3 separate regions of the Homo sapiens genome follow, and regions 1 and 3 are each linked to region 2. The links come from fine-mapping of genetic effects on gene expression. A gene starts in region 2. Each other region holds a variant in brackets. All regions are shown on one strand. Distances are between the middles of the regions.

Evidence for each region. PIP is the estimated chance that this variant, and not a neighbour inherited with it, causes the effect.
Region 1: its variant is fine-mapped to the expression of DENND10 in whole blood (INTERVAL, PIP above 0.99).
Region 3: its variant is fine-mapped to the expression of DENND10 in whole blood (TOPMed, PIP above 0.99).

What each region holds. Positions count from the first base shown.
Region 1 is chr10:119,072,779-119,083,123 of GRCh38, reverse strand. It overlaps EIF3A (eukaryotic translation initiation factor 3 subunit A), which reads left to right and starts at 2,307. Exons shown (of 22, transcript NM_003750.4): 1 at 2,307-2,496; 2 at 9,187-9,377; 3 at 9,547-9,683; 4 at 10,071-10,234. The coding sequence starts at 2,448. RefSeq lists enhancers at 2,093-2,387, 1,815-2,577 and a silencer at 2,583-2,842. The variant C/A (reference allele first, on the strand shown) is at 5,488.
Region 2 is chr10:119,097,536-119,107,880 of GRCh38, reverse strand. It overlaps DENND10 (DENN domain containing 10), which reads right to left and starts at 3,768. Exons shown (of 9, transcript NM_207009.4): 1 at 3,684-3,768. The coding sequence starts at 3,738. RefSeq lists an enhancer at 1,559-2,058 and a silencer at 3,200-3,979.
Region 3 is chr10:119,016,850-119,027,194 of GRCh38, reverse strand. LINC03036 (long intergenic non-protein coding RNA 3036) reads left to right here. Exons shown (of 4, transcript NR_186540.1): 2 at 1,335-1,398. Among named protein-coding and RNA genes, the nearest start is that of LINC03036, 7.5 kb to the left of the region's middle. RefSeq lists enhancers at 1,844-2,417, 3,603-4,245, 4,246-4,888. The variant G/C (reference allele first, on the strand shown) is at 5,215.

The sequences.
Region 1 (10,345 bases), 25 kb after region 2:
CATCTCTAAATAGTTCTCTGTCTACATCTCGTAAAAGAAGTATGTGCTCATATGTTTCACTCTTTAATTTTGACTTAATTATTAGATACACAAACAAGTCTCTTGATCCTGCCCATAAAACAGTTCCTATAGCTTCTCAGTACTTGTTTTTATATCAACCCTGCCCAGCTCTTATTTTTTTGTTGAGTAAGCTCAGACACATAGAATGGTCTAAGCGTTCTGGAGGATGAGCTCTCTGAAATTAATTTTAAAATAAACTTCTTTAGAATTTGTGATTTTTTGGGTCCATGTCTATACTTCCCAAATCTTCTTTCTTTATAGTGATCAATTTAGATAAATAGAAAAACCTCTCCTGTAGTAGAACAGTTCATGTTGAAAAATAAAAAAACAAAACAAAACCATCTTTGTGGAGGCAGAAGTAATGAGGGGGAAATGCTTTTTGTGTGTATATCCTGTGGTTTTCTCATTCTTTTTTTTTTTTTTTCTTTTTTTGAGACGGAGTCTCCCTCTGTCGCCCAGGCTGGAGTGCAGTGGCCTGATCTTGGCTCACTGCAACTTTTGCCTCCCGGGTTCAAGCGATTCTCCTGTCTCAGCCTCCCGAGTAGCTGGGATTACAGGCGCCCACCACAGCGCCCGGCTAATTTTTTTTTTTTTTGAGACGGAGTCTCGCCCTGTCACCCAGGCTGGAGCGCAGTGGCACGATCTAGGCTCACTGCAACCTCTGCCTCCCGGGTTCAAGCGATTCTCCTGTCTCAGCCTCCCGAGTAGCTGGGATTACAGGCGTTCGCCACCACGTCCAGCTAATTTTTTGTAACTTTAGTAGAGACGGGGGGGGGGGTTTCACCACTTTGGTCAGGCTGGTCTCGAACTCCTGACCTCGTGATCCGCCCGCCTCGGCCTCCCAAAGCGCCTGGATTACAGGCGTGAGCCACCACGCCAGGCCTAAGTTTTGTATTTTTAGTAGAGACGGGGTTTCGCCATGTTGGCCAAGCTGGTCTCGAACTCCTGACCTCAGGTGATCCACCCGCCCCAGCCACCCAAAGTGCTGGGATTACAGGCGCGACCCACCATGCCCGGCCGATTTCCTCATTCATTAATTCACATATCTCGTCTATTAAATGTGTAATACATTGACAATAATCTATTTCACTGCTGCCTTCTAAATTTTCCTTCTGGGCTGGGCGCGGTGGCTCACGCCTGTAATCCCAGCACTTTGGGAGGCCGAGGAGGGCGGATCACGAGGTCAGGAGATCGAGACCACGGCGAAACCCCGTCTCTACTAAAAATACAAAACATTAGCTGGGCGCAGTGGCGGGCGCCTGTAGTCCCAGCTACTCGGGAGGCTGAGGCAGGAGAATGGCGTGAATCCAGAAGGCGGAGCTTGCAGTGAGCCGAGATCGTGCCACTGCACTCCAGCCTGGGCGACAAAGCGAGACTCCGTTTCAAAAAAAAAAAAAATTTTTTTCCTTCTGAGCTCACCTTTATTTCGTACCAAGGGCTTGAGAATTAGATTCGGTTCAAATGGTTTTCAAATTCTAGGTAAAGTACTTCGTCTGCGAACATTAAAATTGTTAAGCAACAATAAAAGGGCCTCTCAGATTGATTTTTTTCACTAACACTAATTTTTCTTAATTTGTTTGTGACGTGCGCTGTATGTAAAAAGTGACGACACTCCTTTCCGTGTGTTTTCAAACACCAAGCAAGTCTGCTGTGCTCCAGGGCGTTTCGCCCTTTGCCAGGTCGCTGTCCCCATTCGCCCCCTCTGAGAGCCTCCATTTCTCAAGGCAATCCCTGTGACACAAACTTTTTACTTTACCAAGATATAAAAGAACCTTGCTTGTTTATTTTAGGCGTCACTCTTCCCCATGATTGTCTCTCACGGTTGAGCGGCGCTGACCTGATGACACCTGCTCACTGCGTTTTCGTTAAACTCAGCATTTTCACGTAGCCAAGACAGGCGATTCCCAGGCTGGATGGGACCTTACTGTAACTGCACGACTCCGCACAAGTCGCTTTGAAAACCAATCTGCAGACGTTTGCTTGTTCTCCAGACAGAAACTCTGACCCCACACTCACCCTTCCCACCCTAATTCTCGCTCGAAGATTGAAGAGCCTGTGAACTGTCTCCCTAACGCTATCCAGGACAGGCCCAAGACGGGAACTGGACCTTGCGCGCCTAGGACTCCGGCGCCGCCACGTCTGTCGGCGTGCGTGACGCCAGCGCGCTTGCGCGCACGGAGACCCGCCCCCTACATCCGGGGCCTGGGCGGCAGCAGGGCCGCCGCGGGGAGGTCACGTGGCTCCTTCCTTTCCGTCTCTGGCCGGCTGGGCGCGGGCGACTGCTGGCGAGGCGCGTGGGACCTTACGCTGGTTCCCCTTCGTCTCCTCTCCCGGCCCGGGCCACTAGAGAGTTCGCTGACGCCGGGTGAGCTGAGCCTGCCGCCAAGATGCCGGCCTATTTTCAGAGGCCGGAAAATGCCCTCAAACGCGCCAACGGTGAGTAGCTGATCGGGGCGCGCCGGGCTGGGGCGGCCCGAGGCCTCCGAGGTCGAGAGCGCGGGCCTGCTTCCCACTGCTCCGCCGCCCGGCCCGCGCGGGGAGAGGAGACCGATGCGGCCTGCCCGCCGCTGTCCCAGCCGGTGGTTGGGCATGGGTTTCCTTCTCACTCTATCGACTGGGGTCTGGGAGGCGCGTAGCCCGGAACCGTCGCCCCAGGGGCCTTTCCTTCCCCCTGCCGCCTCCGGGTGCGTCGCGGGGACCGCAGCCCGGGAGACAGCCCCTACCCGGACTGGAGCTCCCTCCTTGCTGCCTGCGTCCTCTGGCTCTCCAGGTCCCTGGGGCTTTGGTCTGCTTAGGGCCCGCGTCCCCGGCCGCCATCTGGGAGTGCCGGGGAGTAAGAAACATGGCTCCCTCCCGGGGACAATGCACGCGAGAGCCTCGGCTCCACCTCCTGCCCGGGCCGGGAGCCCTACGGACCCACCCCCGGCCTTCCCGCAGCCACCCCCGCTCTCCAAGCCGCGCTCAGTGCTTTGCTGGGTCGGCGTCCACTTACCCTTTACCCAGCTGCTTTATATCCACTTAGGGGCCTCTGACCCATTTAACCTGATTCCTGTTGTTTTGTTTTGTTTTTGTTTTTTCATTTTTCCTGGCATTGATTAGAAGCAGTCCTAAAGCCTGTTTCGAATCACTGGAAGTTGGAATAGAGTTAATGTAAAGGGACTTCAGGTCGCCTCTTAAAGATAACGAAACAGGCCTAGAGAGAGGTTTCCCCAAGGTCACTCCGGGAGTTGTTGAGCCAAGAGACTTAAAACCAACGTCTCTTGACATCCAGATCAGTCCTTTTTTCTCTTTTTTTCTGCCACAGTGCTGCTGTCTGCGATTTCTATTTCTATATGTGTACTTCAGCCATTGGCGCTTGAGGGAAAAACTTGTGTGCCCCGATCTCTCCAAGGCATTTATTACATTGGCGTTCTGGGGATGCACATGTTCTTGGCTAGGCTCTGGGCTTAAGAAACTTTGTGTAGGGTTTTTTTTTTCCCCTCTAACCGGACAATTTTTCTAATCGTTAGGGCATGGATAGCTCTTATTTTCATCCTTCCTTCACCGAAATAGAAGTTTCGGGTTTTACCCATGTTGTAGATGAATATACCTTGTGAGTTACAGTTTTATGTTTGGAGAGCTTATTTTGTTAGCTTCTTTGAAAATTCATCTTATGAAAATGGCAGTTTGAGTCAGCACATAAACTGATAATTTGGCAGAACCAGAGATATGTTGGTCATATACTTTTTAAAGTAAAAGTAACACTTTTTGTCGGGGAGGGAACTGGTCTGTGGAATAGGATAATTCCACATTGTGTGGAATGGAGTAATTGTTTTAAAAACCTATTGAAACTACAACATAGATGTGAGCACTAATTCATTCTAATGATAACCAGTGATCTAATGGTTAGAACAGACAAGCAGTTTTAGGATGTTTATTAATACATCGGAAAGAAGAGATTGAAATGGAACTTTGTCACTATAAACCAAACTGTAGCAAAGTTTATGACTTTTCGTCGTTTCGAAAGTTAGAATTTGTAGTATACAAAATGATTTGCATGAAATTACTACTCTGCATGGCTGTTGTCGATGTTTTACAGTCATTTGCATGCTTTGCCCAACAGGTATTTTTTTTTCCCCGTGCTAGTAGGCCAAAGCATTATAATGGCCTACATATTATATATTTGGTGTGTTCGGGTCTTGTTTCCTTTATCGCTTCTCTTTTTGGAACCTTCATAAGAACTTCATATAGAAAAGATATGTAATGTGCATCAAACATTTTTTTCCTGTTTCTAAATTGACACAGGCTTGATTCATGAAGGGCAGGTTAAGGAAAGGATCTGAAATTAAAGTAGGCAAGATGAGGGACACTGGGGGGGAAACTTGAGTTTTGTTTGTGTAGCTTTTTAAAAAAGACTGTGGTCCCTTGCAGCCCTTTGAAGCTGTTGGATGGGGATGCATGCGTTCCCTTCAGAGTAGAAACTCATACCTTTGGATTGTGAGGGATCCCTTCTCAAAGTGAGCAGATCGTGGATGGTCCAGGGCACTGCTTCCAAAACATAAGTGAAGGATCAAAGGGCATTCCCCTAATTGGAAATAATCTCATTTTATCTAAATGTTTTACATGTAATATTTGTGATCCTAACAATATTTAGACCTAATTTATTGCATTGTCTTAATAAAATGTAAATAAATTTAAGTAGAATAGTCGTTCAGGTCACCCTAAGCATATATATGAGCAATTTTTGGGGGAAAAATTATAGTAGTCATTCAGGAAGGTGAGAACTTGGACCAGCAGTTACAGGCAAGAATTTCGTATCCTGTAATCATTTGGAGAAGGCCCCTTTTTCATATTATATCATTAGTGGTGCCACACTAACTGCTGCTGACCTTATTATAGTTTATGTTCTACAACCAGTGCCTTTGAAAAATAAAGCTATTAAGGCCACAAATTGAGTAACATAGCATATCCATTTGGTCTGTTGCACAAATAAACTAGCAAACATCAAGGGCTGATGTAAACTTCTTTATACATACTTTCAGTAATGAATTTGAAAGGTATGCTCCAAATGCTCACCCATCCAGTAAGGTTTATAATTCTAGATTTTAATTTTTATTTCTATAATATTAATCTGGAAGTCAATATTTAAGTATTGAAATAGAACCTTTAGTTTATCATAGTTCTTTCCAGTCTCAAAAGCTTCCCCCGGCCACTATTAAATAATTCAGAGGAGGCCGGGCGTGGTGGCTCATGCCTGTAATCCCAGCACTTTGGGAGGCCGAAGCGGGTGGATCACAAGGTCAGGAGATCAAGACCATCCTCACTAACACAGTGAAACCGTCTCTAGTAAAAATACAAAAATATTAGCCTGGTGTGGTGGCGGGCACCTGTAGTCCCAGCTACTCAGGAAGCTGAGGCAGGAGAATGGCATGAACCCAGGAGGTGGAG[C/A]TTGCAGTGAGCTGAGATTGCGCCACTGCACTCCAGCGTGGGTGACAGAGCGAGACTCCTTCTCCAAAAAAAAAAAAAAATTCGGAGGAACTAAATTCTTGTATATAAATTAGGACAAAGGCAGAAGACTCACTGTCATGGATTATGAAAAATCTGTTCCCATTCCAACTATTTATTTATTTATTTGAGACAGAATCTCTCTCTGTTGGCCAGGCTGGAGTGCAGTGGCACTATCTCGGCCCACTGCAACCTCCGCCTCCCAGGCTCAAGCGATTCTCCTGCCTCAGCCTCCCAAGTAGCTGGGATTACAGGTGTGTCCCACCATGCCCAGCTAATTTTTTAATTTTTTTCACCATATTTCCCAGGCTGATCTTGAACCCTTGGCCTCAAGTGATCTGCTCGCCTTAGCCTCCCAAAGTGCTGGGATTACAGGCGTGAGCCACCGCGCCTGGCTAAGGAATCAACTTCTAATTGGCTGTTCAGGAAGTGAAAAATGGTTTCAGTTCCATCTTTAAGCAAGCCCTTTTTAGATTAGGAGTTGGATACAATAGGTCATTTTAGTGCTGCTGCTGTGATTTTCTTAAAGTATAAATTCCATTAAACGCATTTACTCCCAAGTTTTTTGCTGATAAGAGACTGTTTTTGTTAGTTATGAAGAACGCCTAATGTACTGTTACATTTTCTTTTTTTTTTTTTTTTGAGACAGAGTCTCTCCCTCTATTGCCCAGGCTGGAGTGCAGTGACGCAATCTTGGCTCACTGCAACCTCCGCCTCCTGGGTTCAAGTGATTCTAAAGTCTCAGCCTCCCGAGTATTTGGGATTACAGGCATGCACCACCATGCCTGGCTAATTTTTGTGTTTTTAGTGGAGACAAGGTTTCACCATGTTGCCCAGGCTGATCTGGAACTCCTGACCGCAAGTGATGCCTTGGCCTCCCAGAGGGCTAGGATTATAGGTGTGAGCCAAGGCGCCTGGCTGTACTGTTACATTTTAGAAAATAACCTTACATGCACTATATAGGAGAAGACCAGGAGAAGACTGCAAGTTTTTTCCCTCCCACCCCCACCCCTGACAACAAGGAAAGGCTTATTTCAACAAAATATCTAGTTATATATTACATCTTTGTTTCATTTAGTAAGTTTTTTTTTTGATAGTAAGATGGAGTCAGCGAAAGATGGACTTTTTCATGCAGTGGTGAAGGGTTTTGTCATTATTTGCATGTGAAAAATGTGATTTCATATAAGGTATTGTACAAAGATTTATTTCAGTATGTTTTGTGATTTATCCTGTAGCAAACTTTTTTTTTTTTTTTTTGGAGACTTGTTGCCCAGGCTGGAGTACAGTGGCGCTATCTCGGCTCACCGCAACCTCCGCCTCCTGAATTCAAGTAATTGTCTTGCCTCAGCCTCCCAAGTAGCTAGGATTACGGGCGTGCATCACCATGGCCCAGCTAATTTTTTGTATTTTTAGTAGAGACGAGGTTTCACCGTGTTAGCCAGGATGGTCTCGATCTCCTGACCTCGTGATCCACCCGCCTCCCAAAGTGCTGTGATTATGGCGTGAGCTACTGCGCCCGGCCATTATCAGATAGCTCTTAAAAGAAAAAGTATTGGCTGGGTGCGGTGGCTCACGCCTGTATCCCCAGCACTTTGGGAGGCCGAGGTGGGCAGATCACGAGGTCAGGAGATTGAGACCATCCTGGCTAACACGGTGAAACCCCGCCTCTACTAAAAATACAAAAAAAAAAAAAAAAAAAATTAGCCAGGCGTGGTGGCGAGCTCCGTAGTCCCAGCGACTCAGGAGGCTGAGGCAGGAGAATGACGTGAACCCGGGAGGCGGAGCTTGCAGTGAGCTGAGATTGCACCACTGCACTCCAGCCTGAGTGACAGAGCAAGACTCTGTCCAAAAAAAAAAAAAAAAAAAAAGTCTTTTTCCAAGGAAAATAAACAATGATATTTTTAAAAAGGAGATATATATATATATATGTATATATATAGTGTTTTAAGCTCCCCCCCTTTTTTTTTTTAGTGTAGTGTTTTAGTTCCCCCAAATTATTTTTTAAATGTTCATTGGGAAGTTTGTGTGTGTGTGAAATTTGCAATTAATGAATGTTAAGATGAATTTAACCAGTTGACTTAGGTTAAATAACCTCTTTCTCCCCCAGTCTATTAAGTGTACAAAAGAAAATAAAAGATGAGGAAATTTAAGATAAATTTTAACCTTGGTCAGAAATAATGTAATGGCAAAGGTATTGCTTTTGACTGTATTTCAAAACAAACAATATGCATAAAACTTAAAATTGGAACTGGGTTTTGAAATGTTACCACATAGAATGCCTTCGGGCTCAGGGGATAATAAATTCAAAAGAATATAAGTTGTCTGGGCATGGTGACCCATGCCTGTAATCCCAGCACTTTGGGAGGCCAAGGCGGGTGGATCATGAGGTCAGGAGTTCGAGACCAGCCTGGCCAAGATGGTGATACCCTGTCTGTACTAAACATACAAAAATTAGCCGGGCCCTGTGGTGGGTGCCTGTAATCCCAGCTACTCAGGAGGCTGAGGCAGGAGAATCGGTTGCGGTGAGCTGAGATGACGCCAGTGTACTCCAGCCTGGGCGACACAGCGAGATTCCATGTCAAAAAAAAAAAAAAAGAAAAAAAATAAGTTATTTTGCTTTGTATTCCATTTTTTTCCCTTTTTTTTTTTTTTTTTTTTTTTGAGTTGGAGTTTCGTTCTTGTTGCCCGGGCCGGAGTGCAGTGGCGCCATCTCAGCTGACCGCAACCTCTGCCTCCCAGGTTCATGTAATTCCCCTGCCTCAGCCTCCGCAGGCATGCACCACTACGCCCTGCTAATTTTGTATTTTTAGTAGAGACTTGGTTTCTCCATTTTGGTTAGGCTGGTCTTGAACTCCCAACCTCAAGTGATCTGCCCTCCTCGTCCTCCCAAAGTGTTGGGATTACAGGCATAAGCCACCGCTCCCGGCCCCATTTTTCTATTTTTTTATTTAAAAAAAAAAAGAATTTTTTAGAGCAGTTTGAGATTTCCAGAGTGTTGCAAAGAGAGTGCATAGTTTCATTGACACCACACCCACTTTCTCCCATGTTGATTTTTATTGGTAACAACTAATGAACCAATACCGACACATTATTTATTTTATTTTTTTTTTTTGAGACACGGAATTTCGCTCTTGTCACCCAGGCTGGAGTGCAATGGTGCGATCTCGGCTCACTGCAACCTCCGCCTCCTGGGTTCAAGTGATTCTCCTGCCTCAGCCTCCTCAGTAGCTGGCACTACAGGCACATACCACCACGCCTGGCTAATTTTTGTATTTTTGGTAGGGATGGGTTTCACCGTATTGGCCAGGCTGGTCTCCAGCTCTAGACCTCAAGTGATTGGCCCACCTCGGCCTCTCAAATTGCTAGGATTACAGGCATGAGCCACTGCGCCCGGCCTGGAACTTTTAAATCACAGTGGAATACAGTGATTCAGTTTTACTTGTAGATCATATTTCAACACAGTACAGGTCTTTCTGTTGTTTTACTTTTGATAATTATGGCATAGCTTTAGAAGTCAAAAATAAATGTAACTTGGTAAAAAGTTGGTAATGAGTTGGGGAATTGAAATAGCTGTTTAAAAAGGTAAAGTTTAGACTCTTGTATAGTGTACATAACTAATTTTAATTCTTCTGAATTTTTCAGAATTTCTTGAGGTTGGCAAAAAGCAGCCTGCTCTGGATGTTCTTTATGATGTTATGAAAAGTAAAAAACATAGAACATGGCAAAAGATACACGAACCAATTATGTTGAAATACTTGGAACTTTGCGTGGATCTTCGCAAGAGCCACTTGGCAAAGGAGGGGTTATACCAGTATAAGAACATTTGTCAACAGGTACAAACGGAACTGGGTTGTATATTTTTAACAAGTGTTTTTAGTAATCTGCCGAAGAACTTACCTTTCGAAGTGAATATATTGTATTTCTCTTAAAAATTTGCCTTTAAAACATCTTATGGTTCAATGGAAAAATAAGTTCTGAAGAGTTTTTGTTTTTTTGGATTAGGTGAACATAAAATCTCTGGAGGATGTTGTTAGGGCATATTTGAAAATGGCAGAGGAAAAAACTGAAGCTGCTAAAGAAGAATCTCAGCAGATGGTCTTAGATATAGAGGATCTAGATAATATTCAAACTCCTGAGAGGTATGTGGGTTAGACCTCTAATAAATGCTTTGATAGTTAACTTGGTGTTTTCTTTTACATGGGTCTTCATTTCCTTTTGAAGTAGATGTTTATCAGAAAAAAATGCAAATCTTTGAAGTTTTAAATGCATAGTAACCAGTTAATTTATGTAGGTAATAAAAATTCATAGAAGTGGAAAATGACAGCCTTAAGATAGAGGGGCAAATACCAATTTAAATGAACATAATGCAGATTGGGAATTCAGGGAGTAGATAGTGACACCTTTGCAGTGTGTACATATTGTGGGAAGAATTTGCACTGTTTTCTGATGAACATTGTTTTGGTTTTTAATCACATGGCAAAGTAGGAAACTGTCTAAAATTGTTTTCAACATTTTTTTCTTTGTAGTGTTCTCCTAAGTGCTGTAAGTGGTGAAGACACTCAGGATCGTACTGACAGATTACTTTTAACTCCATGGGTTAAATTCCTGTGGGAGTCTTACAGGCAGTGTTTGGACCTTCTTAGAAACAATTCTAGAGTAGAGCGCCTGTACCATGATATTGCCCAGCAAGGTAAGATGAGAAGATCAAATCTGAGTGAAGTGCTTTGAAATTGACTGAGGAGTAAATTTTCTGAAAAGTACTTAAAATGAACTAGTTTTTATCCTTATTGAAATGTTGGCA
Region 2 (10,345 bases):
AGTTTTAACATCCCATCTTACAAAGCAACTCACAATACCTGACACCCCAAATTCCCACCTATCTCTACTGCTCAAATTATCTAGCTGTCATGATCCTGAATTACAGGCCACCTGAGTAAAAAGTTTTTATAACAAACCATGAATGAAAATTCAGCCTTAGAGATATGGTAGAGTTTTGGCCGGGCACGATGGCTCATGCTTGTAATCCCATCACTTTGGGAGGCCAAGGCGAGTGGATTACCTGAGGTCGGGACTTCGAGACCAGCCTGACCAACCTGGAGAAACCCCATCTCTACTAATAATACAAAAATTATCCGGGTGTGGTGGGGCATGCCTGTAATCCCAGCTACTCAGGAGGCTAAGGCAAGAGAATTGCTTGAACCCGGGAGGCAGAGGTTGCAGTCAGCCAAGATCACGCCACTGCACTCTAGCCTGGGCAACAGAGCAAAACTTGGTCTCAAAAAAAAAAAAAAAGACAAAGAAAGATGTTAGAGTTTCTCCCTATCTCCTCCCACACAAATGCTTATCAACTAAAATTACATTAAGTTTTTAACTAGTTGGAATAATTCTTTTTTTTTTTTTTGAGGCGGAGTCTCACCGTCACCCAGGCTAGAGTGTACTGGTGCTATCTTGGCTCCCAGGTTCAAACGATTCTTCTGCCTTGGCCTCCCAAGTAGCTGGGATTACAGGTGCCCACCACCATGCCCAGCTAATTTTTGTAGTTTTAGTAGAGACAGGGTTTCGCCATGTTAGCCAGGCTGGTCTTGAACTCCTGACCTCAGGTGATCTGCCCGCCTCGGCCTCCCAAAGTGCTGGGCGGAATAATTCTTTAAATGGAGTTTTGCTCTTATTGCCCAGGCTGGAGTGCAATGCAGTGATCTCAGCTCACCACAACCTCCATCTCCCAGATTCAAGCTATTCTCCTGCTTCAGCCTCCCGAGTGGCTGGGGTTACAGGCATGCACCACCACTCCTGGCTAATTTTGTATTTTTAGTAAAGATGGGGTTTTGGTTTCTCCACATTGGTCAGGCTGGTCTCGAACTCCCCACCTCAGATGATCTGCCTGCCTCGGCCCCCCAAAGTGCTGGGATTATAGGCGTGAGCCACCGTGCCCAGCCGAATAATTTTTAATAAATACATAGAAAAGGTTTGTCGAAAACAAAACCAGAGATGAAGAAAATAGTGAAATATTTCAAACCATGTTGCATACCAACTGTGTGAATTTTGTATTTAAAATTGTTTAGGCCAAGCATAATGGCTCATGCCTATAATCCTAACACTTTGGGAACCCAGGAGGATCGCCTGAGGCCAGAAGTTCCAGACCAACCTGGGCCACATAGTGAGACCGCATCTCTACAAAAAAAAAATTTTAATTAGCTGGACATGGTGGTGTGTGCCTATGGTCCCAGCTACTCAGGAAGCTAAGGTGGGAGGATCAAGTTAGCCCAAGATTCAGAGGTTGTCGTGAGCTATGCACCACTGCATTCCAGCCTAGTCAACAGAGAGAGACCCTGTCTCTAAAGACTACAAATAAAAAATTGTTATTGAAAACAGAATTACCATTCCACCCAGTAATCCCATTACTGGGTATCTGCCGAAAGGAAAAGAAATCATTATACTAAAAAAGACACTCACATTCTGTTTTTTTTTCTCTCTCTGAGACAGGGTCTAACTCTGTCACTTGGGCTGCAGTGCGGTGGCGCAATCTCAGCTCACTGCAACCTCCACCTCTGATCTCAGCTCACTGCAACTTCCACCTCCCGGGTTCAAGTGATTCTCCTGCCTCAGCCTCCTAAGTAGCTGAGATTACAGGTGTGCACCACCACGCCCAGTTAATTTTTTGCCTTTTTAGTGAAGACAGGGTCTCGCTATATTGGCCAGGCTGATCAACTCCCAGCCTCAATTGATCCACCTGCCTCAGCCTCCCAAAGTGCTAGGATTACAGGCATGAGCCACCACGCCTGGCCTCTTTTTTCAATTTCTTTTTTTGAGACGGGGTTGGGGGGGGTCTCACTCTGTCACCCATGCTGGAGTACAGTGGCATGATCTCAGTTCACTGCAACCTCTGCCTCCTGGGACCAAGCAATCCTCCCACCTACAGGCACACCACACCCGGCTAATTTTTGTATTTTTTGTAGAGACACGAGGGTTTTACCACATTGCCCAGGCTGGCTGCAAACCCCTTTTAAATGCACGTTAGTGTGAATAATTAAAAAACTGCTGAGTTCAAAATATGATCATATGTCATCTTTTTATTTGCTATTAGTAGATAAAGACAGTTTAACTTAGCCTTAGTTCAAAAGTACCTTCTGGAGAAACTAAGTTACTTAGGTTTTGTTTTGAAGCAGTTTGAAAATCACATTAGAAATAAATACAGTAATCCACCTGGACAACATGTCGGTATCCCATCTCCACAAAAAATACAAAAATTAATCGGGTGGTGGTGCACGCCTGAGGTCCCAGCTACTCGGAGGCCGAGGCGGGAGGATGGTTTGGGCCTGGGAGGTGGAGGCTGCAGAGAGCGATGATTGCGCTACTGCACTCCAGCCTGGATAAGAGGGAGACCCCGTCTAAAAAAAAAAAAAAGAAGAAAGACAAAGAAATAAAAACAGTAAGCGATTCCCACATAAACGCACTGCTTTGAGGCACTGAAAAATAATCAGCATATTTCTTCAGTTTTGCTAAAGCCTAAGCAATGTTATTGCGCACTTGGGGAATAGAAAGAGTTTAGGGGTGTGCAAAAATCTCGGGAAAATAAAACTTTTTCGAAGGGAACCAACGGGTTCCATCCCCTAAATACTGCACGAGGCTGCCCAAAGATCCCCGTGTGATATTTTTTAATTATGGAAGATAATTACATTCCTCAGAGCTAACCGAGATTCCACCACACAGGATTGTGTAGAAACTCCTGCTTTATTTATGCACAAGCTCGATCACATGATGCAGGAGCTCTCCACTGGTGGGGGTTGGGGGCTCTGGGATACACTGCGAGGGTCCCACTCCCGGCTCTGTACGGCCTATGGTGTGTCCGTGCACAATGACGGCCTGGGCCTCCATTTGCTCCTCCGTGAAGTGGGCGTCAGACGTTTCCCACGGCCCCTCGGTCCTTGGTGAGAGCTAAAAGGAGACAATGTGTGTACAACGCGCAGCACCCGGCCCAGCAGTCTCCAGCTGCCCGGTCCCACGATGGGGGCCGCCCGGGCGGGCAGTCACCCGTGGCTCCGAGGCAGCCGCCCGCCCCCGGCTCGGGGGAACCGGACCCTGCCTCCTCCCCGCCGCGCCGCGCCGCGCCGCCAGCCGGCTGCTCCCGCCCGGCCCGGCCCCGCCCGCGCAGCGCCCCTCGCAGCTGCCCAGCCTGGGAGCGCTCGACGTCCCGGCTCCGCCGGGCAACCCGGGGCGTGCAGGGGGAGCTCCACCCCGGAATCTTGGAGGTCCCCGGGCTCCCTCGGGCCGGGCAGGCCCCACAGGCGGCCGCGGGCGGGCGGGCGAGGGCGGCGGGCCGGGTCCCCTGCACCAAGGAGGCCGGGCTCCGCAGTCCCCAGTCCAGGCCCAACAGGGAGGGGGCCGCGCCCTCCTCATGCGGTCGGCGCCGGGGGCCGCGGGAGCCCGGGCTGCCCCGGGCCGAGGTGGAGCAGAGGCAGAACCAGGGTGCGGGCTTCCAGGCAGGGCGCCTACGTCCTCACCGATCAGCCCGACTCCAAGCATCAGCTGAGTGTCCGCCACCTCGGCCGCAGCCATCTTCCGCCGCCGCGGCGCGCAGCTCTGGCTGCCGCCTGCAGGACCGGCCTCGCACCCGAACCCCGCCCCGCCCGCCGTAGGGCCCGCCCCCATCACAGGCCCCGCCTCCCTCCCCGGCCCATCATAAGCCCCGCCTCCCTCCCCGGACCATCACAGGCCCCGCCTCCCGCTGTAGGACCCGCCTCCCTCCCGCCCCGCCCCATCACAGGACCATCAACCCCCCCCGTCGGCCCCGCCCCACCCGCAGGCCCACCTATTCCAGCCCCAGTCCTCCCTGCCAGGACCTGCTCAGTGCAGCTCCACTCGTCTTCTGCCCGTGGCCCTTCGCCCTTGGAAACCTCCTTGAGTCTCCGCAGCCTGCCTCAATTTCTCTAATCCAGCTGTTCATCCTTCTTCTTCTCAATCCACTCCAATCTTTCTTCCCGTCGTAGGCTTTCCTTGTTCTACCTCTGCCCTCTGGTCAAGCTCAAAAGAACAGGTCACCTTGTTCCTAAAAAGAGGCGTCCTGAGGATGGAGGAAGGGTCTCCATCCATTCCTTCATCCAGCCACCCCCAAAACAAAACAAAACAAAAATTGAGGGCCTAATAAGGCACTGGGGATACCTTATAGGGCTGAACAAGACAGAGCAGTCCACTGGGGAAGACAGACAATTGGCGAGTAGAATAAATAATCCAGGCCAGGTGAGGTGGCTCACGCCTCTGATCCCAACACGATGGGAGGCCAAGGCAGGAGCATCACTTGAGGTCAGGAGTTCGAGATCAGCCTTGGCAACATAGTGAGACCCATCTCTACAAAAAAAATTTAAAAATTAGCCAGGCATAGTGGCATGCACCTGTAGTCCCAGCTACTCTCAGGCTGAGGCAGGAAAATCATTTGAGCCCAGGATTTTGAGGCTGCAGTGAGCTGTGATCCTGCCACTCACTCCAGCCTGGGTGACAGAGTGAGACCCTGTCTCAAAAATAAATAAATAGATAAATAGATGACAGATAGATAGATAATAGTAAAAAAGCTCAGAATGATATGTGCCCTGGAGGCAACGATATGTGCCCTGGAGGCAGTGTGTTAGAGAGTGGAGGTGTGCTGCTCTAAAATGGGTGTCAAGAAAGGCTTCTCTGAGAAAGGGATATTTGAACTGAGATCTGAATGATAGTAACGACTCAGACATTGGAAGATTTGGCTCCAAGATTCCTCCTCTGGATCTACTGTCTGCCCCAACCCCAAGTCACACAGAGCTAATTAGGGAGGGTCCTTGGTGTCTGCAGGAATACAATCCCACCCTCATCTTTTTTTCTTTTTTCTTTTTTTTTTTTTTTTTTTGAGATGGAGTCTTGTTCAGTTGCCCGGCCTGGAGTGCAATAGCGCGATCTCGGCTCACTGCAACCTCCGCCTCTCGGTTTTAAGGGATTCTCCTGCCTCAGCCTCCTGCGTAGCTGGGATTACAGGCGTGAGCCACTGCGCCTGTTTTTTTCTTTTTTCTTTCTTTTTTTTTTGGAGACAGTTTCTCGCTATGTTGCCCAGGCTGCAATTTATACATTGGAGTATATTTAGGTGTGTATATGGCATTCCTGTTTCTCTCACTAAACTGAACCCCTGGAAGGCAGCACCCTGAACTACGTGCCCTTCTATTCTCTGGGCTTCCTGTTGTAGTATAACTGTTAATGTGTCTAGTTTTCACAGAAAAGAAGCAGGTGTTTAGAGGCTGAGGAGTGGGACACAGATGTGGAATCAGTTTGGAAGCCAACTAGAAACTTGCACTAGGTGGGGCACGGTGGCTCACGCCTGTAATCCTAGCACTTTGGGAGGCTGAGGTGGGTGGATCACGAGGTCAGGAGATTGAGACCAACCCGGCTAAAACGGTGAAACCCTGTCTCTACTAAAAATACAAAAAATTAGCCGGGCGTGGTGGCAGGTGCCTGTAGTCCCAGCTACTTGTGAGGCTGAGGCAGGAGAATGGCGTGAACCCGGGAGGCGGAGCTTGCAGTGAGCCGAGATCACGCCACTGCACTCCAGCCTGGGCGACAGAGCGAGACTCCATCTCAAAAACAAACAAACAAAAAATCACAAAAATTAGCTAGGCATGGTGGCAGGTGCCTGTAATCCCAGCTACTCAGGAAGCTGAGGCAGACTGGCTTGAACCCAAGAGAGGACGGTTGCAGTGAGCCAAGATCGCGCCACTGCATTCCAGCCTGGGCGACAGAGTGAGACTCCATCTCAGAAAAAAAAAGAAAAGAAATGAGGATGAAGACGATGATGAACAGATAATTAAACAAAGGAGAGGGAGATGATAGTGGGTGCAGGGAGGGGAAAGATAATGAGGGGTGTGTCCAGGCTCCAGTGAGTGGGATGATACCTGGAATTGACACCTCCTTCCCTCCTGTTTCTCCACAAGTGCTGTCTTACCTGCCAGACAGGTACACCAGAGTGAAGGGAAAAGGAATAGAGGGTGGAGAGAGCAGAGGCGACGCATCCCCAATCTTTAAAAGTAAGACTGACCTCTGCGCTGTCACAGACAGATGGAGCTGGGGTGTGGAAACAGACAACCTGAGTTCCAACCCCCTTGCCCATCTTAGCTGCGAAACCTCACACATGTTTCCTATCTTTTCTGTGCATGTTTTCTCAGTGATCAAATGGAGCTAACCATACTTTCCTCCGTGACTCTCCCAATAAAGATTTGAATCAGGGAAAATCTTTATGCTAGTTTTATTGATAAGAATAGCCTAATTTTATAGGTAAGAATATAAAGGGTCCCCAAGACCACCCCCCAAATTCAATGATTTGTTGGAAGGATTCTCAGGATTCAGCATATAGCTATACTCATGGCTATGATATACATTTTTATTTTTTTGAGACAGGGTCTCACTCTGTCACCCAGGCTGGAGTGCAGTGGCACGATCACGGCTCACTGCAGCTTTGATCCAGGCTCAAGCTATCCTCCCACCTCATCCTCCTGAGTAGCTGGGACTACAGGCAGGCACCACCATGCCTAGCTATTTTTTTTTTTTTTTTTTTGAGATGTGATCTCACCATATTGTGTAGGCTGATCTCAAGCTTCTGACCTCAAGCGATCTGCCCACCTCAGGCTCCAAAGTGCTGGGGTTACACATGTGAACCACCATCCCCAGCTCAGGGCTATGATTTATTACAGCCAGAGAATACAAAGCAAAATCAGCAAAGGGAAAAGGCACATGGGGTGATGTCTGGAGGAAACCAGGGCCAAGTTCCCAAGAGTTATTTCCTGGTAGAGTCACACAGGACACACCTAATTCCTCCAGCAACAAGTTGTGGCAATACTTGTGATATTTATCAACCAGGGAAGCTTGTTAGAACTCAGTCACCAAGTAACTCAGTTTTTACTGGGGGCCAGTCACATAGGTACCCTCTGCCTAGCTCATACCAGATTTCCAGACTCTCATGAACCACATTGTATGTACAAATAGTTCAGGCATAGTCTGTCACTCTGATCAGTTTGATCAGTTCTAGAAATGCTGGGAACACTGCCGAAGTCCAAGTTTCCAGGCACAGCCAAGGGCCAAACTGGCCAGCAGACTTTCTATGGATATCACCCTCAGGCCTGTCGTGTGAATTCTTTTTTGCACAGCCTGCTCACTCCTTGCTCTGCAGAAAAAGAGTAAGTTACTGGCACTGAAGCAGATTTGGAAAGTGCCTAAACTGTCTGGCCACATGGACAAGTGCACAAGGGACCCCAGCATCTTCCAGGTGTTCCAATCCCAGGTTCCTATGAGTCAAATATGGTTCTTTTTCATCTTTGTTTCTGTAATTGGATTCCATCATAGATTGGGCATGTGTCAGCCAAGGGAGCCATTAGGGTGGCAGTTTTTTTTTGTTGTTGTTGTTTTGTTTGTTTGTTTGTTTTGATGGAGTCTTGCTCTGTCGCAATGCAGTGATGCAATCTCAGCTCACTGCAACTTCCGCCTCCTGGGTTCAAGCAATTCTCCTGTCTCAGCCTCCTGAGTAGCTGGGACTACAGGCGCAGGCCACCACACCCGGCTAATTTTTGTATTTTTAGTAGAGACAGGGTTTCACCATATTGGTCAGACTGGTCTCGAACTCCTGACCTCAGGTGATCCACCCACCTCAGCCTCCCAAAGTGCTGGGATTACAGGTGTGAGCTACTGTGCCCAGCCTTTTTTTTTTTCTGAGACGGAGTCTTGCTCTGTCACCCAGGCTGGAGTGCAGTGGTGTGATCTCCACTAACTGCAACCTCCGCCTCCCAGGCTCAAGCAATTCTCCTGCCTCAGCCTCCCAAGTAGCTGGGACTACAGGTGTGTGCCACCAAGCCTGGTTAATTTTTTTTTATTTTTAGTAGAGATGGGGTTTCACCATGTTGGCCAGGCTAGTCTGAAACTCTTGGCCTCAAGTGATCCATCCGCCTTGGCCTCCCAAAGTGCTGGGATTACAGGTGTGATCCACCACGCCTGGCCAAGCTCTTTTAATTTAAGGGATTCAGTCTCACTTGGGAACTGGAAGGCGATTCAGTCAACTGCTCTGACACTCCGTCCTGACTTCTAGCATATGTGAGGCTTCCAGAACATTCCCAAGATGAAGTCATCCTCCTTGTGTTCTCAATGGTTTCAGGATGCTGGGTAGCTCTCCGGCCCTAAGAAGCCCAGGTTTCGAGCTGTGTTGCATTATTCTTTTTTCTTTCTTTCTTTCTATTTATTTATTCATTTATCTATTGAGACAGGGTCTTGCTCTGTCACCCAAGCTGGGGTGCAGTCGTTCAATCACAGCTTGCTGCAGACTTGACCTTCCAGGCTCAAGCAATTCTCCCACCTCAGCCTCCCGAGTAGCTGGGACCATAGGTTTGTGCCACCATGCCCAGCAATTTTTTAAAACTTTTTGTAGAGATGGGGTCTCCTTATGTTGCCCAGTATGGCCTTGAACTCCTAGGCTCAGGCAATCCTCCTGCATCAGCCTCCAGAGTAGCTGGGACTATAGGCATGAGCCACGATGCCCGGCTAATTTTTATTTTTATTTTTATTTTATTTTTGTAGAGATGGGAGTCTCACTATGTTGCCCAGGCTGGTTTTGAACTCCTGGCCTTAAGACATCCTCCCACCTCAGCCTCCCAAAGTGCTGGGCTTACAGGTGTGAGCCATCACACCTGGCTACTATGTTGCATTAAAAGAAATAGTTCATGGACTGGGCACCGAGGCTCATTCCTGTAGTCCCAGCATTTTGGGAAGCTGAGGCAAAAGCATCGAGCCCAGGAGTTCAAGAGCAGCCTGGGCAACATAGCAAGACCCTGTCTCTAGAACAAAAATTTAAAAATTAGGTGGGCTTGGAGATACACACCTGAACCTATCTACTCAGGAGGCTGAGGTGGGAGGATCACTTGAGTCCAAGAGTCACTGGTTGCCATGAGCTACAATTGAGCCACTGCACTCCAGCCTGTGTGACAGAGCAAAACCCAGTCTCTAAAAAAACCAGTCTCTAAAAAAAAGAATAATACATAGTTCAGCAAGAAAAATGTAATTAAAATAATTCTGATCTTTCTTTGCGTTTTCCAAAAAACATTAAAGAGGACAGAATTTATTACCTACAGTGAAATGTCTTAAAATCCCTTTCCCCTCAGATTTTTAAAAATAAAACTTTTAGGCTAGGGGTGGTGGCTCATGCCTGTAATTCCAGCACTTTGGGAGGCCAAGGCAGGCAGGTCACCTGAGGTCAGGAGTTCGAGACCAGCCTGGCCAACATGGTAAAACCCCATCTCTACTAAAAATACAAAAATTAGCTAGGTGTGGTGGCAGGTGCCTATAATCCCAGCGACTTGGGAAGCTGAGACAGGAGAATCCCTTGAACCCAGGAGGCAGAAGTTGCAATGAGCCGAGATCACACCATTGCACTCCAGCCTCGGCAACAAGAGTGAAACTCTACCTCAAAAAAAATAATAATAATAATAGGCCTAGGCCAGGCACGGTGGCTCACACCTGTAATCCCAGCACTTTGGGAGGCTGAGGCGGGTGGATTGCCTGAGCTCAGGAGTTCAAGACCAGCCTGGGCAACACGGTGAAACCCCGTCTCTACTAAAATACAAAAAATTAGCCGGGCATGGCAGCGTACACCTATAATCCCAGCTACTTGAGAGGCTGAGTCAGTAGAATCGCTTGAACCTGGGAAGTGGAGGTTGCAGTAAGCCGAGATTGTGCCACTACACTCCAGCCTGGGTGACAGAGCGAGATTCTATCTCCAAAATATATATATATAAATAATAAATAAAAAAATAAAATAAACATTTCAAATAGCTTTAGATTTTCAGAAAAGTTGCAAAGATAGTATTGAGAGTTACCATATACTGCACCTGATTTTCTCTATCATTAACATCTTATTAATATATCTGTAGGGTACATTTGTCACAACCAGTCAACCAATATTGATACATTATTACTATTTATTATTATTATTTTTTGAGACGGAATCTTGCTCTGTCACCCAGGCTGGAGTGCAATGGTGCGATCTCAGCTCACTGCATCCTCTGCCTCCCAGGTTCAAGCAATTCTCTGCCTCAGCCTCCCAAGTAGCTGGGATTACAGGCACCCACCACCACACCCAGATCATTTTTGTATTTTTAGTAGAGACGGGGTT
Region 3 (10,345 bases), 81 kb after region 2:
GCACCCAGCCAAGCAGGACTTCTTTAAGGCTACAGTGACTATGTGACAGAACTAAGACTCTGGTCCTGTTACTCCCGGCCGGGTGGCCTTCTCACTACACCCTGGACCAGCAAGGTATCTCAGACAATAAGTCTGTGCATGCATCCGCAGAACTCTAAGGCACAACACAGGGGAAGCTGGAAAGAAGTGAGGTGAGGTGAGGCGATATGGCCTTGGCTGGGGCCCCTGCCCTCAAAGAGCAATCCAGGGCTCTGGCTGGCAGGCGCGGGAAAGGACCTGAAGCAGTGAAGTGAGGCCTGTTCTGGCCGCCTCTCTGGGTTAGGGGTTAAAGATCCATGTTTCGGCCTCTTCCTTCTAGCCCCCGATGGTTGATGTAAGTCATGAAACCAGGCAGTAATATTCAGCACTTGCCAACCCAGATCCTTTTCCAAGTTTGTGTTGGCATGCAAGGTAGAAAGTCATTCCTTTATTTCCTCCCCTTCTCCACCAAAAATAAATAAAAGAACCTCCATGCCGCAGGGCTCCTGCAGACGCCTGGCAGGTTTGCTGACCCTGAACTCGGAGCTTTTACCACGAGAACGCCAGCCCCCCAGAGTGGTATGAAGATGATTATTCTATGAATGGAAAATTCCGCTCGGTTCACACAGCCCTGCAGCCTGCATCCTTTCAAGACATGCAGACTTTTCAAGCTCTGAAGATGGGGAGCCACAGTTCTGAGAATAACTTTGGCAGGAAAAGTTTAAAATTGCCAGCTGCTGTGTCTGATCCCCCTTGGTCAGGCCAGAGAGGCGATGGCACAGAAGCGGAAGCCTTCTTGCCTCCCAACATGGTTTTCGGCCCTTGTGGTTGTACGGGGAGAATAAAAACTTTTAAGGGATAAGAATAGGAACAAACACCTTGGCTGGGACCTGCAGCCTGGGTATGTGGGAAGTGGAGCTGGGATGGAGATGCCCCAGAAGGAGGTGGAGAAATGAGTGTGTCTTGGGGTCCGCCATGGGCTGTTTCCCCAGGCTGCTCCCCTTGACTGCTATACGAGGTGAGTAGACATTTGACCCAGAAGGGAAGTCGGGAAGTGGAGGCCAAGTGCATGAAGGCTTTTGTCGTGGAGCACACGCTGGGCCTCAGTACCCTGGGAGCCTTTGCTCTCAGTGACCATAGAAAGGCCAGTGTGGGCACCTGGCCCAGCTCTGGGTTAAATAAACAGTGACTTTTGTCACCCAGCAACAGGCCTCAGCCTGGCTGTGAGCTCTCTAGCTCTTTGAGGTGTTGGCACGATTTCAGAGATGTTCTTAGCACCTCTGATGAAGTCTCACTGCCTTTTGCTCACTTTCCAGGAGTCTGGAATGAAACAGATGGAAACAGCCAGTCTGTGAACGTTTCTTCAGGTATCCGGCAGAGGTGAGAAGACAGGTGGGCATGGGCTACACCTCAGAAGTTAGAGGGTGCTGCTTGGTTTCTTCTGGAGTGGGGCAGTGGGGCCTGCCTGGCACAGGCTGAGGGCTCTGGCAGGGCAGGGGTGGGTGGTGGGGAGGGTGCCTGGGTTCTGTGCTCCCACCTCTCCACATGGCCCCCAGCCCGGGCCATTTCCTTTGCTGGCAGCAGAACTGAACCCTGTGAGGCAGCTCACAGACCTCAGGCTCCTGAGGCTCTTCAGAAACATGAGGTCAGCCCTGGGGAATGAGGCAGCTTGGCCGGGGTCCAGGCGGCTATAGCGATGCTGTTTGTCAGGTTCTGGGTTCCCGCTGACCCCCTGCCAGGACTTTGCCAGGGACAGGAGGTGCTTTGGCTCCGTCAGCCATGGGCCTGGAGGTGGGTGAGGTGCATTTGGGCACGAGGAGCCCTCTCCTGGCTGACTTTGTCCACATCATGGCTCTGTCAAGCTCAGAGAGTCCTGGGATGGGGCTCCTGCCCTTTGGGGGGCTTGGGCTTAGGGTCTGCTGTTGTGGAGAAGCCATATGGTGAAGTGGGGAGAGCTTACTGGGCCTCGGGACAGGGTTTGCACCCTGGCGCTGGTGCAAAGTCACGTGTAGTGGACAAGGGGCTTAACCTCTCTGGGCCCCAGATGCTGCTTTTGGTCAGTGAAGGGCTCTTGTCGAGTAAAATGGCAGCCACTCCCCCTCCTTGCAGACTTAACTTTGTTCTGATTCCTTCCCTCAGCCTCGGGGCATAACTGTGACAGGTTTAAGCAGAAACATCCCATTTCCCCTAGTCACCACTGGGTAAGGGGAGGGCTGGTGACCCATTCTCACCCTGGAGATCTCAGCGGACATCTGCTGTCTGCTGGGAGGATACTGGGAAGGGGTTTGCTTCCTTATATAAAAAGGGGGAAGAAATAAAGAACCAGGGCCCTCACCTTCTTCAGCTCAGGCTATAGAGCTGAGGTGATAAGGCTTAAGGACACAAAGCTGGCGCAAGGTGATGGCTTACCAGAAAAGTTAAAACAAAAAACAAACCTTAGTGATATTTTTGTTGATGACTTGGTGACTTGTTACACGAGATAATTATAACATCTCTATTATTTCAGCCACTTCAAGTCAGGTATCCTTTTATTTATTTATTTATTTGAAACAGTGTCTCACTCTGTCACCCAGGCTGGAGTGCAGTGGCATGATCTCGGCTCACTGCAACCTCCACCTCCCAGGTTCAAGCGATTCTGGTGCCCCAGCCTCCCGAGTGGCTGGGATTACAGGCATGCACCACGATGCCCAGCTAATTTTTGTATTTTTAGTAGAGACAGGGTTTCACCATGTTAGCCAGGCTGGTCTTGAACTCCTGACCTCAGGTGATCCACCTGCCTTGGCCTCCCAAAGTGCTGGGATTACAGACGTGAGCCACCACACCACGTCCAGGTATCCTTTTATACGTGCAGTTGACTTCATTCTTAATCAAGCTTGTCCAACCTGTGGCCAGGTGGCCTCATGTGGCCCAGGACAGCTTTGAATGCGGCCCAATACAAATTTGTAAACTTTCTTAAAACATTATGAGATTATGCACAGACCTTTTTTAATTAAGCCCTTCAGCTGTCATTAGTGTGTTTTATGTGTGGTCCAAGACAGTTCTTCCATTGCGGTCCAGGGAAGCCAAAACATTGGACACCCTTGTTCTAAATGAAACATGTAATACTGTGAAAAAAAATACATTTGGTTATTCTGTCGAAAAGGTAGGCTACCATATTCTGGCCAGGTGGAGGTGACGACCATGTCAGAATTCTCTGTGTGTGGACAAGGCTGGAAGGGGATGCGGAGAATGGGAAACGGGTGCCGTGGTGTCATCTCACACCCCCTGCCTTGGGCTAAAGTCTCCCAGCTGGTAATAATACCACCACCATCAGCACCAGGTGCTTGACATGCACTATTCCATGTGCCCCCCACCCCCAACCCTGCCCCGCAAGGCAGGTGCGCTGGTGACCTGTTGGAGACGGGGGCAAAGCTCAGCATGGAGCCCAAGGCTGAGAAGCTCAGGAGCAGCAGGACTGAGATTTGCACCCATTTTTCTCTCACTCCCCGAACCTGGGTTTGTGCCTCCTTGGATGCACCCGGTCATTCTTGGGACTTCTGGGGTCCAGATGTGCGGGAGACTGGCCAGCAACACACAGCGGCAGGGGCAGGAGAGGACACATTCCAGTCCGTGTCAGCAATGTCCCCTGAACAAAACCAACCCCATTTAAAAGCAGTCTGGGTGTTTCTGTTTATCCAGTAGTGGGTACTTTGGTAAAGTGAGTAATCCTTTCTCCCTCCAGCACTTGCCCTCCTCCCTGCCATGTGGTTTTCTTTTAGAAATCTGGAGTGTCCCAATTTTGTTTAAAGCAGGAGCTGCCTGGAGGCTGACAGGCGGAAGGGCAGATGTCCCTGGGCTGATGATGCTGATAATAGCAATAACAGTAGCTCACAGGTGCTGAGCCCTTACCGTGCACTAAGCATTCACTCATATCATTTCTGAAATCCTCCCAGCAGGCCTACAATGATAAGCATTTCACAAAAGGGAAAATGAGGTTTTGGGAGGCTAAAAGCATGCCCAGCAGCTCACAGCTAGCTGGTAGGTGGCATTTCTTCAAGGCCCGCACTGTTAACCCTCACACCTCCTTGATCATCCCCTGGCCCGTGGATACTCATTCATTTGGAATTCACTACATCCGGCCTCCCCACCTCCTCCTGTGCTTCCCTAAATGGGGCCATCAGCCTTCTCTCACCCGTCGTCAATCCCTGCTGTCTGCAGGGGGAGGGAAGTAAAAAGCTGACAGGAAGGAGTTACATGTAAAATGGTAACCTGTAGATTGAGACTGTTCTCCAACAGGTCTGAGGGCTCTAGGCAGAGGGAGGGGAAGCGGGGATATGAGGGCTGTGGAAAGGATGGGACCAGACTGCCAAGCAAAGAATGCTATGTGTGGTTCTGCAGGTTGTGTACAGTTCTGCAGGTTGTGTACTGCACAACCGCTTCCCATCTAAGGGGGCACCTTTACTTCATAGACATAGTAACTCTGTGATCATTTTCTGGCCGACCTTGAGTAAAGTATCTTCTAACGAAATCAGTATATTATGACACTTCACTGACAGATGGAAAAAGATACCTTGTGGAAGAAGTGTCTTTTCCTAATTTGCTCAAAGCCCAAAGCTTTGGCTCTGGCCGAGGTGTGAAATGCTGAGCTTCTTGAAGGCGGGCCTCAAGTTTGACATTAGTACCCCTTTTCTTGTTTCCCCATTCTGAAGCTTCAGGTGGAGAGTCTCCTGAATTCAGCTGATCAGGTGCTGGGCACAGTTCTGCCCTGGTTGTTACTGGTGGATCAGCTGCCCCTTGGGACTAACATTTAACTTTATTTTTGAGACAGTCTTGCTCTGTCGCCCAGGCTGGAATGCAGTGGCACGAGCTTGGCTCACTGCAACCTCTGCCTCCTGGGTTCAAGCGATTCTTCTGTCTCAGCCTCCTGAGTAGCTGGGACTACAGGCATGCACCACCACGCCTGGCTAATTTTCATATTTTTAGTAGAGATGGGGTTTTGCCATGTTGCTCAGGTTGGTCTAGAACTCCTGGGCTCAAGCAGTCCGCCCGCCTCACCCTCCCAAAGTGCTGGGATTACAGGCGTGAGCCACCTCGCTGGGCCGGGACTAACATTTTAAAGATTGCTCAAGTCATTTTAGCCATCTTCTTCTGGTCTTATCTGATTTGCACTGATCCTCTCCCAGCCGTCCTGAGTTCTCCAGGGATTTTGTGTGCTCG[G/C]AGCTGCCTCTCCACAGTTGTGTCTGTCTTCAGGCTTCTACGGCTTAGTGACCAGAAGGCAGGTGGGCCCCAGGGAGCGGATGGAGGATCCAAGCTCTGTATAAATTGAGTAGCCTCGAGCAAAATCAGTTCCTGTCTCTGGATCTTAGTTTTAAATTTCAGTTTAAAATAATTGGGCTGGCCTAAGTGATTTCTTGGCCCTTTCCATCTCTAAAATTCATTTATTTACCATCAAGGTCTGGGGATAAGTGGCAAATAAGACTGACGTACTTCTGACCTCATGGAGCTTACACTCGAATTGGGCAGACAGACAAGTAAACAGGCGATGACACTTGGTGGGGGCAGGTTCGCTTCCTGTTGCGGTTGTAACAAATTACCACCCATATAGTGGCTGAAAACAACACACTGATTTTCTCAGCGCTCTAGATGTCAGAAGTCCACAGTGGGTCTCACTGGGCTGAATTCCCTCTGGAGGCTCTTGGCGGGGAACCTGTTTCCTTACCTTTCCCAGCGTCTGGAGGCTGCCTGCCATTCCTGTGGTTCGTGGCCTTTCCCTTCTCAAAACCCAGGGATAGCAGGTAGCTGAGTCCTTTCCACGTGGCACCTCTTTGTTCTTTCTTCTGTCTCCCTCCTCCACCTTCCAGGACCCTGGTGGTCCCACTGGGTTCACTGGGATAATGCAGAATGTGCAGAATGATCTCCCAATTCTAACATCTTTTTTTGTTTGTTTTTGAGACAGAGTCTCGCTCCATCACCCAGGCTGGAGTGCAGTGGTGCAATGTCGGCTCACTGCAACCTCTGCCTCCCATATTCAAGCGATTCTCTTGCCTCAGCCTTCCGAGTAGCTGGAATTACAGGTGCGTGCCACCATGCCCAGCTAATTTTTGTATTTTTAGTAGAGACAGGGTTTTGCCATGTTGGCCAGGCTGGTCTCAAACTCCTGGCCTCAAGTGATCCACCTGCCTCGGCCTCCCAAAGTGCTGGGATTACATGTGTGAGCCACTGCGCCAGGCCCCTATTCTAACATCATTTAATTAGCAACCTTAATTCCACCTGGAACCTCAGTTCTCCTTGGCCATGTCAGGTAACAGATCCACAGGTTGTAGGAATTAATATGCCTTTTGGGGTCATTATTCAGCTTACCACGGGGAAAGTGCAGAGGGCTGTGAACTCCCTGGCAACAGCACCCCACCCACACACGGGTGTGTCATGACTCCCAAGACCTTGGCATAGCCAGAGTGCAGCTGGGCTGGGGAGGTCAGGTTTCCTCTGTCAGTTGGGACCTGACACAGTACAGGGGAAGCTGTGAGGTGAGGGAGCACTACACAAAGTGTGTGTGTGTGTGTGTGTGTGTGTCCCTCAGGCAGATGGAAAGTGATTGCAGAGGAAGGGTCTGAGTTGCAAAGAGGATTAGTGAGCAAAGAAAGGCATACTTGTGTGGGAGACTCAACATACTTAAAATATTAGGTTGGTGCAAAAGTAATTGCGGTTTTAACTCTTTAATGGCAAAAACCACAATTACTTTTGCACCAAACTAATAATAATGATGTTATTTAATTTGTCATTAAAACAAAAAAAGAGCCAAGTGCAACAAAAATACCCAGCAATAATAGAACAAGCATCAGGAGTGAGAGACTGGAGTGAAGTGCTCCAAAACCCTTATATTGTTCAAGGAGAGGGGAAAGATACTAACTTTAATATTTTATAACCTATGGGAAATTTCAAGAATTACAGAAGTAAAGATCATAGCATAATGCATCTTTTTTTTTTTTTTTTTTTTTTGGAGACAGAGTCTTGCTTTGTCGCCCAGGCTGGAGTGCAGTGGCGCAATCTCGGCTCACTGCAAGCTCCGCCTCCCGGGTTCACGCCATTCTCCTGCCTCAGCCTGCCGAGTAGCTGGGACTACAGGCGCCTGCCACCGCGCCCGGCTAATTTTTTGTATTTTTAGTAGAGACGGGGTTTCACCGTGTTAGCCAGGATGGTCTCGATCTCCTGACCTTGTGATCTGCCCACCTTGGCCTCCCAAAGTACTGGGATTACAGGCGTGAGCCACCACACCCGGCCAGCATAATGAATCTTAACCCAGTTTACCCTTAATAACTGGCTACTCTTATTTTTAACTATCTCCACACCTGTTTTTTTTTTTCCCTATCTCCTATACTATGGATTATTTTGGAGAAAATCTTGACTATCAATATTAATTAAATTTAGATTTTGAGAGGTTAAGCATGTAAGTTAACATTTTTAGGGAACCAATTTGGAAAAAAAGAGAAAGGAAATAGAGGGTATAACTTTCTTTCTTTTCTTTTTTTTTTTAGACAGGGTCTTGCTCTGTCACCCAGGCTGGAGTGCAGTGGCATGATCACAACTCACTGCAATCTCAACCTTCCCAGCTCAGGTGATTCTCCCACCTCAGCTTCCCAAGTAGCTGGGACTAGAGGTGCACAACACCATGCCCGGCTAATTTTTGTGTGTTCTGTAGAGACAGGGTTTCACCATGTTACCCAGGCTGGTCTTCAACTCGGGGGCTCAAGTGATCCACCCTCCTTGGCATCCCAAAGTGCTGGGATTATAGCTTTCAAAATAATAGATGTAAAGAAATGGAATGAGGAAAGGATAATAATTACAAAAGAAAGCATGACAGAGGGAAAAATAATCACATAAATGGTAGAACAAATTGGAAGTACACAATAAGATGGTTGAAGTACGTCCAAACATATAATTACTGTAATAAATGTAAATGGACTAAATGTTTTTATTAAAACACAAAGATTTCAGACTGGATTTAAAAATCTGCTATATGTCCTCCATAAGAAACTCTAATGAAACATAAGGATACAGAAAGGTGAAAGGTGAAAGGATGCAAGAAGTCATGGGAGGAGACACCACCAAGGAACAGCTGATGTTGCTGTGCCAACAGCCAACAAAATGGACCTATGGCTATGTAATGTGAAAGGTTCAGTTTACCAGGAGGCTATAACAGTTCCAAGGTAATATATACTTAATAATTTAACTTCAAAGTATAAATAAAAAAACTGATAGAATTGCAAGGAGAAATAGGAGAAATAGACAAATCTACATTAGTGGGAGATGTGACAACTCTCTCGTAGGTAAAATAGACAATATTATTAAGGATATAGAATATATTTAGTAATATTGAATAATGATATGTATATAATTATATATACATATAAATATACAAACACTGCCTTGAATAACTGCAGAATTTACATTCTTTTCAAGCACTCAGAGCATTCATAAAAGTTGACTGGGGCCAGGTGTGGTGGTGCATGCCTGAAATACTAGCTATGTGGGAGGATCACCAGATCCCAGGAGTCTGAGACCAGCTTGTGCAACCTAGTGAGACCCCCATCTCTTAAAAAAGAAAGTTGATGGGATTCTGTGCCATCAACCAGGTATTAACAAATTTCACAGGATTGGTGTCACATAGGATTCTCTGGTCACAAGTCCATTTCATTAGAAATCAACAATGGAAGAAACTAGAAAAGGATACAATACAGAGAAGTGAAGGAATTAGTGAAATAGAAAAGAAAAGATATGATAAATGATTGACAAAGCCAAAAAGTTGATTTTTTTCTTCTTCTTCTTCTTTTTTTTTTTTTTTTGTAGAGGCAAGGTCTCACCATGTTGCCCAGGCTGGTCTCAAGTCATCCACCTGCCTCGGCCTCCCAAAGTGCGGAGATTACAGGCATGAACCACTGTGCCCAGCCTAAAAAAGTTGATTCTTATAAAAGACTAATAACATTAACAAATATTTAGCAAGATTTATTAAGAATAAAAGGCATGACAAACAATTCCATGACTATAGATACTTCCTCAATTTTAAGATGTGGCTGAGCGCAGTGGCTCATGCCTGTAATCCCAGCACTTTGGGAGGCCGAGGCAGGTGGATCACTTGAGGCCAGGAGTTCGAGACCAGCCTGGCCAACATGGCAAAGTGCCATCTCTACTAAAAATACAGAAATTAGCCGGGTGTGGTTGTGGGCGCCTGTAATCCCAGCTACTCGGGAGGCTGAGATAGGAGACTTATTTGAACCTGGGAGGCGGAGGTTGCAGTGAGCTGAGATTGCACCACTGCACTCCAGCTTGGGTGACAGAGTGAGACTCTGTCTCAGAAAAAAGAAAAAAAAAGTTAAAAATATATATGAAATGGGCAATCTGCTAGAAAAGTAAAACTCAGTAATTTAAAAACCTCAGTAATCCTGTAACCAGTTAATAAATTTAATCAGAGTTAAAAATTTCCTCACAAAGAAAACACTAGATCCAGATGACTTTGAAGATAAATTCTGCTACTAAAAAACCAAATAATTCCAATTCTACACCAAACTTTTATAGGAAAAAGATCATTTTCTAATTCATTTTATGAGGCTAGTATAAAGCACAAGAAGTATAAGAAAAGAAAATTACAAACCAAACTCACTCATGAACATATGTGTAAAAATCTGAAACACAATATTAAACCAAATTAGTAATGAAAAATATTTAATTAATCAGGTCTAAGATGAATTTACCTCTGGAATGGAATCTTGGTTTAACATTAGAAGTCAATTAATGTGAGGCCAAACTCAGTGGCTCATGCCTGCAATCCCAGCACTTTGGGAGGCTGAGGTGGGTGGATCACTTGAGCTCAGGAGTTCAAGACCATCCTGGGCAACATAATGAAACCCCGTCTCTACTAAAAATACAAAAATTAGCCAGATGTGGTGGTGCAGGTCTGTAGTCCCATAGTCTCCGCTGCTTGGTACAAGAATCACTTGAACCTGGGAGAGGGAGGTTACAGTGACCCGAGATCATGCCATTGCACTCAAGCCTGGGTGACAGAGCGAGACTCTGTCTTGAAAAAAAAAAAAAAAAAAAAGTCAATGTAATTCACCACATTCATATATTAAAGAAAAATATGATTACCTTGGTAGATACAGAAAACACATTTGATATAATTCAACATACAGTTATGATTAAGACTCTTGGAAAACTAGAAAAAGAAGGGAGTTTCTTTAATTGATACAGCGTATCTACAAACCTTGTAGCAAATATATTTAACACCTCTAATCATCGTGTTCCTGGAGGTCTCACAGGTCCTAGCTACTGTAGTATGGCAGAAGAAATAATT